Regions from separate parts of the Homo sapiens genome. Here region 1 is linked to region 2. A link means that fine-mapping ties the variant in region 2 to the plasma level of a protein whose gene starts in the linked region. Region 2 holds a variant in brackets. A gene starts in the other region. All regions are shown on their reverse strands.

Region 1 (10,048 bases), not on the chromosome of region 2:
TTCTTGGGCTAGGTGCGGTGGCTTAAGCCTATAATCCCAGTACTTTGGGAGGCTGAGGTGGGAGGATTGCTTGAATCCAGGAGTTTGAGACCAGCCTGGGCAATATAGTCAGACCTCTGTCTCTACAGAAAATTTAAGAATTAGCCAGGTGCAGTGGTGCATGTCTGTAGTCCCAGCTACTCAGGAGGCTGAGGTGGGAGGATTGCTTGAACCCGGGAGGTGGAGGTTGCAGTGAGCTGAGATTGCACCACTGCACTCCAACCTAAGTGACAGAGGGAGACTCTGTCTCAAAAAATATACATAAATTTTTTTTTTGCAATTGCTTCTTGTCAATCTCAGCCCAGGACCTGGGTGACCTCTGCCATAGAGAAGGGAATGTATTAAGCCATTCTTCCTTTGCTATAAAGAAATACCCTGTAATCCTAACACTGGGAAACTGAGGCTGGAGGATCACTTGAGCCTAGGAGTTTGAGACCATCTGGGCAACATGGTGAAACCCTGTCTTTACGAAGAATTTTTTTTTTTTAAGATGGAGTTTCGCTGGGTGCGGTGGCTCACGCCTGTAATCCCAGCACTTTGGGAGGCCAAGGCGGGCGGCTCACCTGAGGTCAGGAGTTCGAGACCAGCCTGACCAATATGATGAAACCCCATCTCTACTAAAAATACAAAAATTAGCCGGGCATGGTGGCATGTGCCTGTAATCCCAGCTACCTGGGAGGCTGAGACAGGAGAATCACTTGAACCTGAGAGCTGGGAGGCGGAGGTTGCAGTGAGCCGAGATCGCGCCGTTGCACTCCAGCCTGGGCAACAAGAGCGAAACTCCGTCTCAAAAAAAAAAAATGGAGTTTTGCTCTTGTTGCCCAGGCTGGAGTGCAATGGCACAATCTTGGCTTACTGCAACCTCCGCCTCCCGGGTTCAAGTGATTCTCCTGTCTCAGCCTCCCAAGTAGCTGGGATTACAGGCGCCTGCCACCATGCCTGGCTAATTTTTTTGTATTTTTAATAGAGACAGGGTTTCACCATGTTGGTCAAGCTAGTCCCAAACTCCTGACCTCAGGTGATCCACCTGCCTTGGCTTCTCAAAGTGCTGGGATTACAGGCATGAGCCACTGCGTCTGGCCTTCTACGAATAATTTTTAAAAATTAGCCAGGTGTGGTGGTGTGCACCTGTAGTCCCACCTACTTGAGAGGCTGAAGTGGGAGGATCACTAGAGCATGTGAAGTTGAGGCTGTGGTGAGCCATGATTGCACCACTGTGCTCCAGCCTGGGCAGTAGAGTGAGACCCTGTCTCAAAAAAAAAAAAAAAAAAAGGAAGAAAGAAAAAGAAAAAAAATACCTGAGACTGGGTAATTTTTTTTTTTTTTGAGACAGAGTCTTGCTCTGTCACCCCTGCTGGAGTGCAGTGGCATGATCTCAGCTCACTGCAAGCTCTGCCTCCTGGGTTCATGCCATTCTCCTGCCTCAGCCTCCCGAGTAGCTGGGACTACAGGTGCCCGCCACCACGTCAGGCTAATTTTTTTTTTTCATTTTTAGTAGAGATGGGGTTTCACCGTGTTAGCCAGGATGGTCTCAATCTCCTGACCTCATGATCCGCCCATCTCGGCCTCCCAAAGTGCTGGGATTACAGGCGTGAGCCACCGCGCCCGGCTTTTTTTTTTTTTTGGAGACAGGGTCTCACTGTGTCACCCAGGCTATAGTGTGGTGGCATGATCTTGGCTCACTGCAACCTCTGCCTTAGCCTCCCAAGTAGCTGGGACTACAGGCCGACACCACCATGCCTGGCTGACCACCATGCTTGCCTGGGAGACTGAACAATTTATAAGGAAAAGAAGCTTAATTAGCTCATGGTTCTGCAGGCTTTATGGGAAGCATGGTGTTGGCATCTGCTCAGCTCCTGGGTAGGCCTCTGGAAGCTTACAATCATGTCAGAAGGTGAAGGAGAAGCAGACATGTCACATATCCAGAGCAGGAGCAAGAGAGGGAGGGAGTTATGGGAGGAGGTGCCACACACTTTTAAATGACTGGATCTCTTGTGAACTCAGTGACAGCTCACTTATCCCCAAGAGAATGGCCCAAGCCATTCATGAAGGATCCACCCCCATGATCCAGACACCTCCACCAGGCCCCACCTCCAACATTAGGGATTACATTTCATCATGAGATTTGGGTGGGGACAAATATCCAAACTATATTAAGGAGGAATATTTCCCTTTCTTTATCAGGAGTATAAAGTAGGAGGCATGGGGGATTCTCTCCCTGTTCTGTTCAGGCATAGGTTAAGGAAACACCAATTCCTTTAAACATATGCATCTGGAGTTGCCAATTCTGAGTATCACAGTTGTTAAAATATGACACAGTCCCTGCCCTCAAGAAATTGACAAGGTAGAAAAATAAAAAATGGCTCTTTTTGTTTCCATCCCTACAAGCACTCTGGTCTAGTAGTATATTCAGCAAAAGGAGCAAAAAGTGCCACTTCCAGCTCCAAATCAGCAGGTCGGGTGGTGGGGTCTGGCCAAGTTCACACACAGAATAATTAACTCCTGCATGCTACCTGGGATGATATTTATTCGATGCTTGCTATATGCCAGGTATAATGCTACACCTTTTTTTTTCTTTTCTTTTTTTTTTTTTGAGTCGGAGTCTCGCTCTACTGCCCAGGCTGGAGTGCAATAGCATGATCTTGGCTCACTGCAACCTCCGCCTCCTGGGTTCAAGCAATTCTTCTGCCCCACTGAGCCTCCCGAGTAGCTGGGAATACAGGCATGTGCCACCATGCCCGGCTAATCTTTGTAATTTTAGTAGAGATGGGGTTTCATCATATTGGCCAGGCTGGTCTTGAACTCCTGACCTCGTGATCCGCCCACCTTGGCCTCCCAAAGTGCTGGGATTACAGGCGTGAGCCACCGCGCCCAGCCTACACCTTCATTTAAATACTATACTCATTTAATCCTCACAATGTGAAATAGATACTATTATCCTTAATTTTACAGGTGAAGAAATGGAAGCACAGAAAAATTAAGTGACTTGCCCAAGGTCATCCAGCTAGTGTCGGCATTTGAATCTAGGCAGTCTGTAAAGCTTGTGGTCTTAACTATTTATTATACTGCTAACATCCTGGATTAGGATAGCAGCAGGAATTAAAGCTCAATGGAGAGAGAGAGGACTTGAGAGAAGGTAGAATCCATGTAATCTGACCATAAGAGGAGAAAATTGAGATTACAAGTGAAAGTGGAATAAGATACAGGGTCTTTGGGCATTTGAGTTGCAATCAGTGGATTGTAACACCCTCCCCGAGCAGGATTTGTGTCTTAATCATTTTGCACCTAGCATAAAGCTGGGCTCATAATCATTCTCAAAACACATTATTGAATTGAATGATGGATGAGTAACATCATCTCTGTAGAAAGGACTGGCTCATTTGTCATTGTCCACAAGGGGCAATGCTGCTTATCTAGCAGGTGTTGGCAGTCACAGAGGACATGGTTGGTGGAGAGGGTGTGCTGGAGGGCTGTCAATATTAGTCTTGGAGTCATATTTATTTGCAGAGCTTCTCCAATCCTCATTAAAGGCCCAATGATATGAGGCTCTCCACCCCTGTACCCAGACAGAAATATGCACCAGACACTTTATTTTCTCTCATGAAAAGGCTGGCCTGTTACAGGTGGGATTGGTCATTGCTCCCAGCCCGTCAGCTTGATACTGCATTCTTGGTCTATTCTGTGGGGACAGCCCTGGAATAGACACTGAGTATCTATCAGAGTAGGCACCCTGAGCAAACTTCCTTTCCCAAACCCTCTTCCTGCCCATAACATGATTTGGCTTGGGCTGGAGGAGGGGGAGGGCAGAGGAGACACCCCTTGACCACCTCACATCTTTGTTGGTTCATGGGTCTCAGCCCTTTCCTATCATCCCAAAGAGCCTGAAATTGTTACATTTTGCTTTATAAATTCCTTTCTTAAGTATTGTCAGTTTCAAAAAAAAAAACCCAAAAAACGATTGTCTGCCTGTAATAGCAGGTGTGAGAGAAAATGAGGTGCCTGGAGCATATTTCTCTCTGGCAATGGGGTAGAGGGCCTGACATCATGGGGCCTTTAATGGTAGCCCCCCAGCTTCATGTTCCCTCACCTTTCTGGAGAGGAGGGCTTGGGAAAGGCACATGGAGATAGGGTGGAGCTGGGGGAAAACAGGCCTTGTACAAAAGCTGAGTAGCCAGATGTTCACTTTTACAGCTCTTCTGTAAAACTGGCAGGGCAGATATAGATTAAAACGAAGGACAAACTCCATTTAAAGTGCATTACAGCTCAGGAACCAGCACCCCCTGGGCAGGAGAAGGGAGGGAAGGGCACAGAGGCCACATCAGTCTCCTTCCTTATCTAGGGCCACATGTCTCTCTCCTAGCTTTGCCAAGGGTGATTTACACCCCCAGCTGGAATGACTCTCTTTCTGGGCTGATTACATCGGCAAATGCCCCCCAGAGGCCACAGCAGGATGGCCATATTCAGAAGCAGCAGCCAATAAATCTCAGAGGTTTATATTGCGATTCTCAGTACTCCCTGCTGGCCCTCTGCCAGGCTGGCTGTGGAAGTAAGGAGGGGGTCAAGTTAGAGGGTTAGGGGATGAAACCCTCCACTTCCTTTCATCACCCTCTTCTCCTTCTCTCTTTCTATGCGCTGCTTAGTTCTCATTCTTCCAAGCCATTCTGCTTCTGGCTTTATCCTGGGATCTTGTGGGAATCAGGCCCAGGCCCAATAAATACCCTTATCCTTATGGGTAGACGTCCTGTGTTCTGGGCACAGATGTGTTTCTACCTAGTTGTTTAATCCTGATAGAGTAGCTTGCTCTCCGAAAGTCTCATCATGTGAAAAGGATGGGCTCCTAAATGGTCTCTCCAGGCACCTTCCTCAGTGAGCTTTGGTCCAAGGAAATCTCTGCTATTTAGTGGAGAGTTTAATCTTCCATCTTCCCTCACGACACCATCGGGGCTGAATTTTGGAATCTAATGCCCCAGGTCTGCTCCCCCAGCAAAGCCATTCCACCTGTCTGCGACCCATCTTTGCAGCATCTTGAGCTTAATAACCACCCAATCTTACCCTAGAAGACACTTAGGAGAGGAAAAAACGAGATCATAGATGTGCAAATTCTAAGAAAAATACTAGAAATGCAAGTGCCCTTGTGTTGGCTTGTTCAAGTTTTGTTACAAAATCTCTTTTGTGGTGGTGTCTGTTCTTTGATGTGTGGGTGAGTGGGATCCAGAAAGTGAGAAAGGGTGCTTTTCTTGGAGAAATATTTGGTTCTCCTAGATGGCGAGTTTCCAGCGGCAGCTTCCACAATGTCTTGCTAGTCGAACTTGTCAGACAGCAGGTGGGCCGCCTCGGAAAGAGCAACCTCTTCCGCACCAAGCCCGGCGGCTCCCGGGGCGCCGGCCCTCCCCCGCCCCCACCCCCGCGGTCCCTCGGACCAGCGCTGGAGGCGCGTGGTGTGGACGCGCGCTTCGGAGTTGGAGGGCGGCGCCCAGGACCCTGGTGGGAGAGTGTGTGCGTCGCGCTGGAGGGCGGGAGGCGGGGGCGGGAGGTGCCGGTCGAGGGAGCCCCGCTCTCAGAGCTCCAGGGGAGGAGCGAGGGGAGCGCGGAGCCCGGCGCCTACAGCTCGCCATGGTGCGCCCCCTGAACCCGCGACCGCTGCCGCCCGTAGTCCTGATGTTGCTGCTGCTGCTGCCGCCGTCGCCGCTGCCTCTCGCAGCCGGTGAGTGTCAGAGCGCGCACCGGCCGGGGGTACAGTGGGAGGGGGAGGTGAGGTGTAGGCGAGGCCCGGGGCACCTGTCCGGAGAGGGCGCAGCAGCCTCCCGGTGCATCCGAGCCGAACAAGGGGAACTGGAGCAGGAAGCCCAGGGTGCCTGCAAGGGGCTGGGGTCACACCTAACACAGTGTACGAACTGAGATAGACTGAGTGCCAGCAATGGCCTGGCCACCCAAGCATCTCCTCCTCGCCCCTTTTTCCCCCCTCTTCCCTCTTTTGAGGTAGGTCTACACAGTCACAGAACAACCCACAGCCAGGTCACTACCAAGACAGCGTCTCTAAGAGGCGGGGAGAATCAGATCAGAAACAGAGTGTCATTTGCTCCACGTGGGCTTTAACTCTTCCATCTGCTTTAAGGACTGAGGAAGAAACTAGGTACAGGTGAAGAAAAAGAAGTTCGTTAAAACTGACTTGTTTCATAACCTTCTACAATAGCAGGCCTTGCAAGCCGTCTAGCACAGTGGCTTGCCCCTTGGATAATAAATAATCCACAATAGATGTTTTGTAGATGTAGTTCAAGGCCTGGTTTTAGAACCAGGCCACTCCCCCAAGGAAGAACAGCCTGGGATCCGAGATCCCTGGAAGGCCCATGGCCTTCGTGAGTGGTATGGGTGTGTGGAATCTTATTATGCGGCTCCTGCCCAGAGACTGAATGGAGGGACTCCTGAGACAGAGAGACCACCACACTGCCCTGAGACCTCAGTCCACAACGCAGTGCTGTAGAAATGCTGCCTTGAGACAGATATGGAAGGAAGGAGGAAAAACCCTGGTCTGTCCACCTGCCAACATCAGTAAGTCAGGGCAGCAAGACATCACCAGTCTGATTTGACTGCCCAGGAAATTTCACTAATCCTAAAGGTTATGGCTGCATGTCAGGATCAGGGGAAAACATTAAACACCTTTCTCATTAAATGGTTTAATGAAGCAGTGTTGGTGACAGATCTATTTTCCACAGTAATACTTGACAGCAATGACATCTGGTTAAGTAGCCTCATTGAAAATCCATAAAACAGTCATCTAGGAGGTACCATGTAGAGCCAAGTGCTCTTCAAGAGCACAGACCAACAGAGGGCTTTGGGGGTGGAAAATATCATTGCTCAGGGCCTGCTAAAGCCAAGCATATAGGAGACCTCCGATTCATGGGGAAGTGGTGTCATGTACTGAAAATCATTCTGAAGTGGATAGGAGGCTGGAGTCCTGGGTTCTAGCCTTGACTCGGTCTTGACTTGCTACATCCCCTGGTGCACATTACTTTTCTTTGTTCATCCAACTATAAAATGGATACCTGGGTTGTGGGCCTCACTGATGAGAAACAAATGAGGATCTTGTGCCCTGAGGCATAGCCTGATCTGACCCATTCTGTAGCTACTCATTCTCTGATGAGCCAAGAAGCAGAAAACAAAGTTACAAAACCAGGTTGCTAACAAATCAATATGAAATAGACGTGGCAGTGGCTGTATAAATGAGGAGGTGGGGCAAGTAATAGAAAGTGGTATGGACTATAACAAGCTGGAAAAGGCATGACTTGTCAAAAGGGGGCAGTCATTACTCCACCCGTTACATGTGGGCCCGAGTGTTTCCATTTTTCAAGACAAATTGGAAATTAATAGTTTTATTTGAAATCTGATTTTTTTTTTGAGACAGGGTATCAATCTGTCACCCAGGCTGGAGTTCAGTGGTGTGATTCCAGTTCACTGCAGCCTCAACCTCCCATACTCAAGTAATCCTTCTGCCTCAGCCTCCCCAGTAGCTGGGACTGTAGTAGTGTGCCACCACACCTGGTTAATTTTTGTATTTTTTGTAGAGACGGGTTTTTGCCATCTCGGATGCCCAGGCTGATCTTGAATCCTGGGCTCAAACAGTCTGCCCACCTTGGCCTCCCAAAGTGCTGCAATTAAAGGTGTGCGCCACCGCACCCGGCCTAAAATCTGATTTTTAAATGTTGGCCACTAATTACAACTTTAAGAAAATACTGGCTGGGTGCAGTGGCTCACACCTGTAATCCCAGCACTTTGGGAGGCTGAGACGGGTAGATCACGAGGTCAGGAGATTGAGACCATCCTGGCTAACACAGTGAATCCCCGTCGCTACTAAAAAATAGAAAAAATTAGCCAGGCATGCTGGTGGGCGCCTGTAGTCCCAACTACCCGGGAGGCTGAGGCAGGAGAATGGCGTGAACCTGGGAGGTGGAGCTTGCAGTGAGCTGAGATCGCGCCACTGCACTCCAGCCTGGGTGACAGAGCGAGACTCCGTCTCAAAAAAAAAAAAAAGAAAAAGAAAATACTGTGAACGTGCAAAAAAAACCAACCAAACAAACAAATAAAACAACCAAACCACACACACACACACACACACACACACACACAAAAAAAAAAAAAAAAAAAAAACAGAAAAGAAAATACTGCCGGGAATGGTGGCTCACGCCTATAATCCCAGCATTTTGGGAGGCCAAGGTGGGTGGATTGCTTGAGCTCAAGAGTTCGAGACCAGCCCGGGCAACATGGTGAAAACCCATCTCTACAAAAAATACAAAATTAGCTGGGCGTGGTAGTGCATGCATGCAGTCCCAGCTACTTGGGAGGCTGAGGTGGGAGAATTCACCTGAGCCTGGGAGGTCGAGACTGTAGGCTGCAGTGAGTGGCGATTGTACCACTGCACTCCAGTCTGGGTGACAGAGATTAAAAGAAAGAAAAGAAAAGGAGAAAGGAGAAAGAAAAAGAAAGGAACGGAACTATGCTGACTAAAAAAGACACATTTGCACACTGGATCAAATTATGACCTTTGCCCTGGATCAAGTCCTGTGTTTCACAATCCAGGAAACACAGGTTCCACCTTGTTGAGATGAAATTTAACGTGGCCCCCAAGTTCTTTGTTGAGATGAATGCCCCTAAATCCATCACTGCTCAAACTTGGTAAAGTGTCAACTAAGAAATTGTTTTCTTTTGAAAATGTTTACAACTCAATAGTTAGTACAGTTAAATATTTATGGCCGGGCACAGTGGCTCATGCCTGTAATCCCAGCACTTTGTTGAGGCCGAGGCGGGCAGATCACCTGAGGTCGGGAGTTCAAGATCAGCCTGACCAACATCGAGAAATCGCATCTCTACTAAAAATACAAAATTAGCCAGGCATGGTGGGGCATACCTGTAATCCCAGCTAGTTGGGAGGCTGAGGCAGGAGAATCGCTTGAACCCGGGAGGCAGAGGTTGCAGTGAGCCGAGATCGCGCCACTGCACTCCAGCCTGGGTAACAAGAGCAAAACTCCACCTCAAAAAAAAAAAATTATTTTTAGTCCAGTTACAACAATAGAACTTGAATCTGCCACTTTTCTTTGTGTACTTACCACTTATTCAGTACCTACCGGAAGTAACATCGTAAACTTGTAGAAATTCCTCAATCTTTTTAAATCCATGTTCCCCTTTTGGTAAATATATAAAATCTCATACCTTCCTTAAATACTTTTTGAAATCTCAAAAGCTTTTTTTTTCATCTTGTACATGTAAAATTATCAAATATGCTTTTTGGAAATACATATTTCCTAGAGAAATTCTGATATACTTTTTCTTTTCCATAGGTTATTGGGGTACATACAGGTGGTGTTTGGTTACATAAGTAAGTTCTTTAGTGCTGATTTATGAGATTTTGGTGTACCCATCACCCAAGAAGTATATACTGCACCCTATTTGTAGTCTTTTATCCCTTCCCCTCCCCCACGCTTCCCCCCAAGTCCCCAAGTCCATTGTATCATTCTTATGCCTTTGTATCCTCATAGCTTAGCTCCCACATATCAGTGAGAATATACGATGTTTGGTTTTCCATTCCTGAGTTACTTCACTTAGAATAATAGTCTCCAATCTCATCTAGGTTGCTGCAAATGCTGTTAATTCATTCCTTTTTTTTTTTTTTTTGAGACGGAGTCTGGCTCTGTCGCCCGGGCTGGAGTGCAGTGGCGTGATCTCGGCTCACTGCAAGCTCCGCCTCCCGGGTTCGCGCCATTCTCCTGCCTCAGCCTCCGAGTAGCTGTACAGGTGCCTGCCAGCACACCTGGCTAACTTTTTTTTTTTTTTTTTTTTTGTATTTTTAGTGGAGACGGGGTTTCACTGTTTTAGCCAGGATGGTCTTGATCTCCTGACCTTGTGATCCGACTGTCTCAGCCTCTCAAAGTGCTGGGATTACCGGCGTGAGCCACCATGCCTGGCCAATTCATTCCTTTTTATGGCTGAGTAGTATTCTATTCTATCACAATTTCTG
Region 2 (10,253 bases):
TTACAGGAAGCATGGTGCTGGCCTCTGCTCAGCTTCTAAGAGGTTTCAGGCAACTTACAATCATGATGGATGGTGAAGGGGGACCAGGCACATCATGTGGCAAAAGCAAGAGCAAGAGAGAGAGAGGGTGCGGGGAGGGGAAGTACCACATATTTCTAAACAATCAGATCTCGTGAGAACTCACTCACTATGGTAAAGATAGCACCATGCCATGAAGGATCCACCCCCATGACCCAAACACCCCCCGCCAGGCCCCACCTCCAGCACTGGGGATACAATTCAACATGAGATTTTGGCAGGGACAAGCATGCAAACTATATCACCATCTGGTAACATCCTATGGCTATGGAAGGGAAGGGAATAGGCAAAATTGGTGGTTGAATTTGGTTGACAACCAAAACTCAGTGGACAACCCCTTTTTGGTATCCCAGTGGTAGAAGCCACTTGGAGAAGGTTGGGAAGCTGAATCAGCCCAGGATCTGTGTGGTCTTCAGCCTTCCAGGAAGTAGATCATGCTGGACAAAAACTTCAGACCTCAACCCACAGGATCTAGAAAGGCCAGGATGGAAGAAGCCACAAGGAAAGGAGATACTTAGAGCTCAGTGGTGCTGGTTAGGGAGTCTTTAAGGACACTTGAGAGCCAGCACCTGTGCCCTCATCCTGGCTTCAGATTCTGTGGCCTAAGTGCTAAAGCCTCCCGCCCACTCCTACAGATGTGAATGAGAGTCAGGGAAAAACTGGGGGTGGGTATGGGAGTCCGATGAGAGAAGAGCACATCAAACCCAGGGTATCTGTGAGAGGGAGCTGGATCCATAGGGCCTGCTCTGCATCTGCAAGTCCAGATGTAATGGCAACACACTTGGGCAGTTACCATCGCTACCTATGTGCAGAAGGCTACACAAACAGGAAGAGGAAATATTCAAGCACTGGCTCGTTCATTTTAACTCGAGAGTGTCTAAAACAGATCCCCAACAGCACGGAAAGTTTCAGTTTTGTAGTCAAGCAGATAAAGATGTGGCTAAGGAGAGTATTCTAAGGCAGATGCCAAGTGTATGCCCTCTGTGAGTGCAATGTGCATTGCCCATGGGCCTAGAGCATTCTAGAATAGATATGCAAAATACATGACCACTTAGGGAAAGTTGAGATGAGTCACTCTTTCTAAGAGTAACCGTTTAAAACATCACACTTAGTATCTCTGAGCCCCACAGCACATGCACTGTGAAGAATAAAAATTCAGATAACATTTAGACTTGCATGAACAATTGTTTTTTTTAAATAGACACCAAAGGAAACTCGAACCCAAATTCTAGATTCAGAATGCCCAACACTGCTTACCAGAGACAATGGATTTTGGTTTAGGTTTTAAAGAGTGATAAGTATCAGATTCAGATGCTAAGAGGTAAAAGGAGAAGACAGTTTTGCTGCTCACTCAGTGGGTTTTCTCAGTTTTAGACAAAGGTCACAAGGGATCTTGGGGGCTCCAGACACTATCGAGTAATTGGTAAAAAGGATGATCATGATATCAAATACCTGGAGTGCTAATTTCTTTAGAAACCAAATTATATAAGACCTTTGAGGCATGTGAACGTTCATCCCCAGTTCAGAACTGCCTGGAAGAAGCAGAGTTGACATTGTTCATTTTTAAATACTGTGCAAGTTCTGCTAGATGGCTAGCATCATAATGGGGTAAGAGCAGATCCTGAGTAGATCTTCCCTAGCACTCCTTAGCTGTTTCCCATGAACCTTAGAGAATCAAAGACCTATAGGCTTAGTGGATACTAAGAGAGATTTGAAGATAAACATGCCATTAAGGCAAAGCCCTTCTCTGACCTGACCCAAGCATGTCAGGCCAGAGACAGTAAGAAAAGGCACCAGAAAAGGCATTCCATGGATAAGAGAGAAGCCAGGGCCCTCCACCCTTTTGAACATTTTGAAAACTGAAAAGGGAAGGCCTGTAAGCAGATGCTCAGGGCCTTCATGATCTCTTTCAGCCAGGTTCTTGCACTAGTATCAGCTGATCAAGTCCTTTCCCTCAGTTTAAACCATGGACTACCGTACTGAGGGCTTAGGAGCTGTGCTTTCTGACATAGCAGGAAGATATCGGGAAGGTAGCTAAATTCTACTGGCAGAAGCTTAAACTATGTGAGATCTAATATCAATATCCTGTTTACAGATCAGAGCCATTGGCACATAATTAGGCAGTGAGACACCAATTCTAGGAGGTGTGTATACAAGGTGGAGGGGTGATCCACAGAAGCCTCCCCTCTGTGCTCTCCAGAGCCAAGCAAGACATGACAGGGAAGTAGAGGGTGGTCGTTTCGGTTATACAGATGCTGCACCTCTTGAAGGAGTCAGAGGCATGTGAGATTCCCAGGGTCCTAAGGGATCTGAGTTCCTTTATGCCAGAAAGCTTGGGCTTTCCAAGGTAAGGCCAATGGTAGCTCTCACTTATGTGGCTCCGGTAAACCTAACTGCTCCAGCCAGGAGGGACAAGATGGAAGCTCAGCATAGGAGGTGGTCAAGGAAAGAAACCTAGGACCTCTGAGGTTGAACTAGACTAGTGGTTTTTGTTTTTGTTTTTTTCAAGTAAATTTGAATTTGGCATTGAGATGGGCACAAATTAGAACAGCTTAAGGATGTATTATTAAAATGAGTGCTGAAATATTCTCTATGAAGACACTTTCCCCCAAGAATACTGTGGTATGGTTTTGAAGACCTCATAAGGCTTGGGATGGAACATAGTATGTGAATGTTGCAATGCTTTCCACCTTCTGGAAATCTGTAACTGGAGGGCAGAATTCTGGTGGAGGGTTCCACTTGTAAGTCTCACCCTAATAGTGTTGGTGGTACTTTAAATAATAAATTGAAAAAAATTATATTAATTTCTCTAAACTGAAATTATGAAACATATGTCACCATCCATACCTGTGAGCATTATCCCTGTGCCTTTTCCTTGTCTCTCCTGGGGATCTCAGAGAGGCCTCCCTTGTTTTTCAAATGAATCATATAGCAGTTTATTCCTTGATCTCTAGTTCCACAGTTCCTCTCCCCACTTCCCTCAGTATCTTTATTTCCCTTCAAATTTCACTTTACAGGTCTCTTCATCTGATCAGTGAGTTTCTTGCCAAACATATTTCAAGACCTTCTGGAAGTACCTTGCCAATAACCCATTGCCACATCATTATTGCTAACTCTTCATTATTCTCCATATTCTCTTTTCAATTTCAAGGATAACAATATCAATCAGTGTGGACCTAACCTGTGCTTCTTAAAGCCTCTCTGGACTGGGGTTTTAAAAGGATCACACTAAACCCTTAATTACTCCTCTTTTCTTGTACTCCCTTCTCTGCTCTTGTCCTGGAAGAGAGATCATGACAAGGGATGATAGCTCATAGTGAAGGAGCCACTCCTTGGCTGGCAAGAGGCTCTCCTAAACCACTACAAACAATTAGTCTTAATCCTGGCTTTCAAATAGAAGCACCTGGGGAGCTTTTAAAAAAATATGGATGCCTGGGTCCTATCCCACACCAATTAAATCAGGAACTCTTGGGATGAAGCCCTAGGGTTGGTATTTTTTAAAACTGCAGTGTGATTCTAATGTGCACTCAGTTTCAAAGCACTGTTAGGAGCTGTGGTTAGCCATGATCCTTTGTTGAGCATCTATTTGCAGCCAGATGTCAGCCCACACAATCAGGGCATAGAGGAGTAGCACAAGGATTCTCCAATCAAGTTATTCAATTCTCCCACTCACTGCTTCTTGCCTGCTTTGCCTCCCCCACTCTGAGCCAGGGCTCCTTTTATTAAAGCAACTCCTAAGAACACAGGGACGCTCTCTACCCCTTGCATGAACTCCTCTGCAAATCTCTTAGGAGTTAGCACTTCAATCACTATCATTCATTCAGAAAATGTAAGTCACCTTTTTTGCTTTGAGTTAATCATTTCCCATTTTCCCAGGTGATTCAGAAAGCCAGTGCTCACTGACAATGAGTGGGTAGACGCGTGGGCCTGCAGACCTGCCTCGCTGTTCCATTAACAGCAGAACACACTTCGAGAGGCAACTGACAATGGAGGCAACAACAACAACAACAAAAGCAGTATTTTTCCAATCATAAAAAAA[G/T]AAGTCTGTTTCTGAAAACACAGTTTGATTTGTTTATATTTCATGCAGTGTTAAAATGCTCAGTCGGTTCTAACCTTGTTTGCATTAATCCTCTTTTCGGAATTTGCACATTTGTTTTCAAAGCATTGGGTTGGAGCAGTTTGCTGCTACATGGAAATCATATCAGCAATCGTACTCAGAACATGAAATGAACCTGCACATAGAACCCACACAATTTTAATGTCTGCTAACCAACTGATAAGCACATAGGAAGGGCATACAAGAATTAGAATAGAGAGCCATTGAGCCAACAAAGGTTCACTTTCTAAGAATCACCACCTTCTGAGGTTACTGGTTAGTACTCTCAACAGCCATTGCAGCAGAGGCTAATTCATTCATTCACACATTCAAGAAATTTTTCCTTGGACATCTACTGTATGCCAGGTACGATGCTATGAGTTAGGACTAGACTAAGGAATAAAACACAGTCTCAGCCCCCAGAGTCTACAGTCTTCAGCTAATCATATAAACAAATAATGAGCTTTGCAAAAGCTTCTCCTCTCATTGGTATGCTCTTCTCCCATCTCTTTGTCTGGCTAAATTCTATTCAACCTGCTAGATCTTGAGTAAGATGTTTCTTTATCTAAAATAAGCGTCCCCAACCCCCAGGCCATGGACCAGCACCAGTCTGTGTCCTATTAGAAACCAGGCTGCATGGCTGGGTGCAGTGGCTCACGCCTATAATCCCAGCACTTTGGGAGGCTGAGATGGGTGGATCACCTGAGGTCAGGAGTTTGAGACCAGCCTGGCAAACATGGTGAAACCCCATCTCTACTAAAAATACAAAAATTAGCTGAGCGTGATGGCAGGCACCTGTAATCCTAGCTACCTGGGAGGCTGAGGCAGGAGAATCACTTGAACCCAGGAGGCAGCAGTTGCAGAGATTGTGCCACTGCACTCCAGCCTGGGTGACAACAGCAAAACTCCATCTCAAAAAAAAAAAAAAAAAAAAAAACAAGAGAAGAAAAAAAACCAGGCTGCACAGCAGGTGAGCAGCAGGCCAGTGAGCATTACCACCTGAGCTCTGCCTCCTGTCAGATTAGCAGTGGCATTAGATTCTCACAAGAATGTGAACCCTATTGTGAACTGTGCATGCGAGGGGTCTAGGTTGCACGTTCCTTATGAGAATCTAATGCCTGATGATCTGAGGTGAAACAGTTTCATCCTGAAACCATCCCTCCCCTTGCCCATCAGTGGAAAAATTGTCTTCCACAAAACTGGCCCCTGGTGCCAAAAAAGTTGGGGATTGCTAATCTAGAAAATGCTCCTTGACACCTCAAGTTAGAGTTAGGCGTCCTTTCTAGGTATTTCCATAGCAACAGTGCTTACTCCTATCTGAGGACTTTGCACTTCGTATTGCAATTACTTGTTTAATTATTTATATCCTCTCACTAGGCAATGAGCTACTTAAGGACAAGAGCTATGTCATGTCCATCTTTATATCCCCAATGACTAGCACTATGCCTAGCACCTATTAGGAACTCAATAGATAATTGTTGAATGAATAAGTGAATGAGTGATTGAGGTATTCATAGGGTATTATAAGAACACAGAGAAGAGACACCTAAAGATACTTCCTGGGAGAGGTAGCTTCTAGGGGAAGTTATAAATGGTTAAGTCTGAATTATCCAGGATTAGGCTGGTTGGACAGTAGAGAGAGACATTCCAAGCAGAAGGATAGCATGAGAAAAAGAAAGCCACAAAAAACAAAAGAGGCATGCCAGAAAATGCCCAGCAACACGTGGAGAGGACACACGCTAAGGCAGCCGTAAGGTCATGAGGGATGGAAGGTTCCAACCAAACCAGACTCAAACTCCATTCTTCCCTTCGTTCCCATCCAAATAAAAGAATGAACACACAGATCAGAGGAGTCCTAGGAGCTGATCTCCAGGGTTTACATACTGGTTACCAACATATTACATAGTCCCTAAGTCACAAACCATGCCAAAAACTCTTCCTTGATACAAGAACTATGTCTTACCCTGCCCTGTGAGGTTCAGTGAATGGGACCTTCCAGGGAAAAGGTGCCAGGTCATCTTCTTAATACACTCCTTGCAGAAGGTTTCTGTCTCTCATTACAAATGGTGGTAAAACACCTTGTTCGCTTTGGTAGGCCCACCTTTCCTCTGCCCAGCTTCTTCCTAAAACCTAGCTCCTTTTGTTCAACCTGAGCAACCCTTAGGAGAGCATGTTGCCTTATTTCTCCTTACTCCATTGTTTTTTGTCTTGTTTTTTGAGATGGAGTCTCGCTCTGTCACCCAGGCTGGAGTTTAGTGGCACAATCTCAGCTCACTGCAACCTCTGCCTCCCGGGTTCAAGTGATCCTCCTGCCTCAGCCTCCTGAGTAGCTGGGACTATAGGCATGCGCCACCATGCCTGGCTAATTTTTGTATTTTTTAGTAGAGATGGGGTTTTACCATATTGGTTGGCCTCGAACTCCTGACCTCGTGATCCACCCCCACCCCACCCCACCTCCCAAAGTGCTGGGATCACAGGTGTGAGCCACCGCACCCAGCCCATTGTCTTTTAAAATATTAATTTCAGTGATTTCGTCATTTACATTCAATGCAACCAATATCCTATTTAAGGTAATTCCAGAGTTTCAGTAAAACATCTCTGATTACCCACTTCAAGTAAGAAATTCTAAGAAGATCAGCTGATAGAGTTCAGTCATTAATTCATTCAACAACTATTTAACACATCTGTGTCAAGCACTGTGCTGGAGTCTGGAAATTCAAAGATGAATGAGAAATGGTCTCTACTCTTAAACTGTCTGCAGTGTGGAGGAAGTTCTAGGATGGGGAAATTGCTTATGTGGGGCAGTGCTGAGGCTACTGCTGACCTACCTAAGCCAGCACTTCAGGTTTATGCAGGTCCCTGAATCAGCAATACAAGCATCACCTGGAAACTTGTTAGAAATGCACATTCTTGGGCTCTTCGTACAAACCTACTGAATCAGAATAAGAGAGTGAGGCCCAGCCACCTAGGTTTTAACAGGACCTCCCAGGAATGCTGAGGCTCACTTTGGTTTGGGAATCTCTGGTCTAAGCTCTGTTCTGAATCACACCAGGCCTATATGGAAGGTGATTAGCCATTCCCAGCCTTCTTCTCTACAATCCCCCCTTCTTCTTTTAGGAGATTAACATGAAACATCAATCCAGAGTGACTACCCAAAATGAAGTAAAAATACTATTTTCTCACATAATAGCAACACATGACACTGCTCCCAAATCACAGAGACGGTTTTATGAAGATCAGTATGGTATGGACTAAACCGACTAGAGCCACATCAGCATCAACACAGAGGGATTCAGAAAGGATAATATCATCATTGTCTCCTGTATTAGTCTGTTCTCACATTGCTATGAAGACACACCCGGGACTGAGTAACTTATGAAGAAAAAAGGTTTAATTGACCCACAGTTCCACATGGCTGGGAGGCCTCTGGAAACTTACAATTGTGGCAGAATGCAAAGGAGAAGCAAGGTACCTCTTGCATGGCAGCAGGAAAAAGAGCCGCAGGGGAAACTGCCGCTTGTAAACCATCAGATCTCGCGAGCCCTCCCTCACTATCACGAGAACAGCATGGGGGAAACCGTCCTCATGATCCTCCCAATAGCCCCCAATCACCTCCCATCAGGACCCTCCCTCCACACGTGGGGATTACAATTCAAGATGAGATTCAGGTGGGGACACAAAGCCAAACCATATCATCTTCATTCTCCCCCCTGGCACTTGAGGGGAAAAAAGAATCATATCAGCTTGACTATTCAAAAAAGAAGCAAGAGCGCCACAGTTATTTCAGTGCATGGGAAAAGGGATAAACTGAAACAATAAACTTGAACGTTTAGGAATATAAAGGTAAGGGGGAGAGAGATAACAATCTTGGCCTCTGAGTTCTGCAACCCTATGGTTGTTTTAAACAAATGAAAGCAGATTGCTTTCTTCCTGGAGTTCTAGTGAAATGTATCTTGCCACCAGCAGACCGTTCGGAGCTCCTGGCCACAGTTTATTGGCTCATTGCCACGTGTCATTAGTGACCTATTTTCGCTGCTGTGAAATCGGCCATGTCTGAAGGCCCCCGAATCAGCAGTTTCTCCCTCCACTCACCGGCTCCAGGCTGGCAAAGCTGACACCAGTGCCACAGAAAATGCAACCCGCTGCCCTCTCCCCAAAATGTGGGGAGAGCACGGTTTTGCTATGAAGATGTCGGCTTTGACCTGAGGCTGACTTGAGAGCCCAGCTGTCATGTCTCTTCCAAATAAGCTGCTGAACTTGGAATTATCTTGGCTGAATAATTAATCAGGACTAAAAATAACCTCAAACTGCCTGGGCTTTGCTTAAATCCTACACAGGTGAGAGAAGTAGGTTTTTTTTTTAACGTAATTGCAAAACCCATATTTTGAAAGGCTCTGCACCAAAATATGAAAATAATTACCCAACATGCCAATTTGGGAGATAATTCACAGTTAATCTGGCTCTCTTAAAAAAATGCCACCTTTTGAATTTCACATTGACTTCAGATTGTCAGTTCTTGGTGGATATGAAAAGCAGCCGAGAGTTGTACTCAAAATTTTCTAAGAATACCTTCAAACACAAATCCATGGGGAAAAATATATCCGTTGGTATAAAGAGCGCCTGTTACCAGGCAGATTAGACAGTGAGCCGAGTTCCACAAGAGGGCGCCTTCCCCATGCTTCCTTCTCGAAGGTGAGGGCGCTGCGTTTCCGCCCCAGCCTTGGCTGCCCTTTCTTTTCCTTTGCCCTTATACAAACGATGTGCTCCCAAGAGCGAATGCTCAGTGTCCTGTGGAATGCTACTCCTGTGACCACTTTCTAGCTGAGATCATCAGGCAAATGTTATCTCTGTAACATCAGAGGAGCAACTTCAAATGATGAGAAATCAAGCAAAACATTAAAAATACAGGGGGAAAAAACAAATACATCTAAACTGCCTTCTCTCCATGGTGATCTAGCTTTGTGTGTTCATTTTCTTGATATTGCTGTGATACAAATAGGATGTGATGAAATGAAAGTACATCCATCACAGCAATCTTGTGTCCAGCCTGAATCTCAGACCCAGATGTGGCTCCAACCAACAAGTGACCATGAGCACGGGGCCCAGGTGTATTCTGGGAAGCTGCTCACCCTCACTGCCATTTCTTTCATCCCCGTAGGCACAGCATCACCTTACATCGAAGACAGATTCAACGAATCTGCCTCTCATCCTAGGTGGCCACTAGGCAACTCCTCTGGGACCATTTCTTCCTGCTCTATGCTCCCATGACCTTCATTCATACTCCCTCTTCCCCTGCTGGAAACCTACTTCTTTTACCTCCTCAAAGGTAAAAGGACCAGCTGGTGAACAAAAGAATACATTTGCTCTATCTAAAGAGAAGCATTAGAGCAAGGGAGGAAAAACTGATGCAAGACAAATGACTTGGGCTCATCATAAAATACTGAGCAGTCAGCAGAACATTAAGAAGAGACTTCTACTCCCCACCACACACATAACCATCTGCACACCTGAATGCCGAGACTAAGCCTCACCAGACGCCAGCAGCATAAATGAGAGGAGTCACTTACCCCTCTGAGGCTCAGGCTTCTCGACTGGAAAAAAAAAAAGATAATAAAAATATCAGTTCAGTTGGGCATAGTGGCTCATGTCTGTAATCCCAGCACTTTGGGAGGCCAAGGCGGGTGGATCACCTGAGGTCAGGAGTTCAAGACCAGCATGGCCAACATGGTGAAACCTTGTCTCTATTAAAAATACAAAAATTAGCTGGGCATGGTGGTGCATACCTGTAGTACCAGCTACTCAAGAGGCTGAGGCAGGAGAATCACTTGAGCCCAAGAGGTGGAGGTTGCAGTGAGCTGAGATCATTCCACTGCACTCCGGCCTGGGCAACAGAGCAAGACTCCCTCTCAAAAACAAACAAACAAAAAAAACCTAATGAATTGTCAGTCTCAAGCCAGTGGGTAGCCAGTGGGTAACCTGGTAATGTAATGGTTCTGTGAAAGAGAGGGTCCATAGAATACAACAAATGTGTGATCTTGTTACTTCATTTGCTGTGATGTGAGCTGAATAAGAGTCACAA

Which allele goes with the higher level. Positions count from the first base shown, and alleles are read on the strand shown. Strength reflects both the effect of a copy and how common the allele is.
For the plasma level of the protein whose gene starts at base 5,456 in region 1, G is the high allele of the variant in region 2 and T is the other (weak association).

The links. PIP is the posterior inclusion probability: the model's chance that the variant is causal. Protein levels are from antibody-based Olink assays in UK Biobank. Linkage for the fine-mapping came from a reference panel and not from the study's own genotypes, which makes the PIPs less certain.
Region 1: GFRA3 starts here. The variant in region 2 is fine-mapped to the plasma level of the GFRA3 protein (UK Biobank, PIP above 0.99).

Annotation. Positions count from the first base shown.
Region 1 is chr5:138,270,029-138,280,076 of GRCh38, reverse strand. It overlaps GFRA3 (GDNF family receptor alpha 3), which reads left to right and starts at 5,456. Exons shown (of 8, transcript NM_001496.4): 1 at 5,456-5,743. The coding sequence starts at 5,653. RefSeq lists silencers at 5,364-5,453, 5,544-5,733.
Region 2 is chr12:67,440,552-67,450,804 of GRCh38, reverse strand. LINC02420 (long intergenic non-protein coding RNA 2420) reads left to right here and starts at 8,246. Exons shown (of 2, transcript NR_146500.1): 1 at 8,246-8,511; 2 at 9,333-9,807. The region is part of intron 3 of LOC105369812 (a long non-coding RNA gene); the gene reads right to left. RefSeq lists a silencer at 2,245-2,429. The variant G/T (reference allele first, on the strand shown) is at 4,118.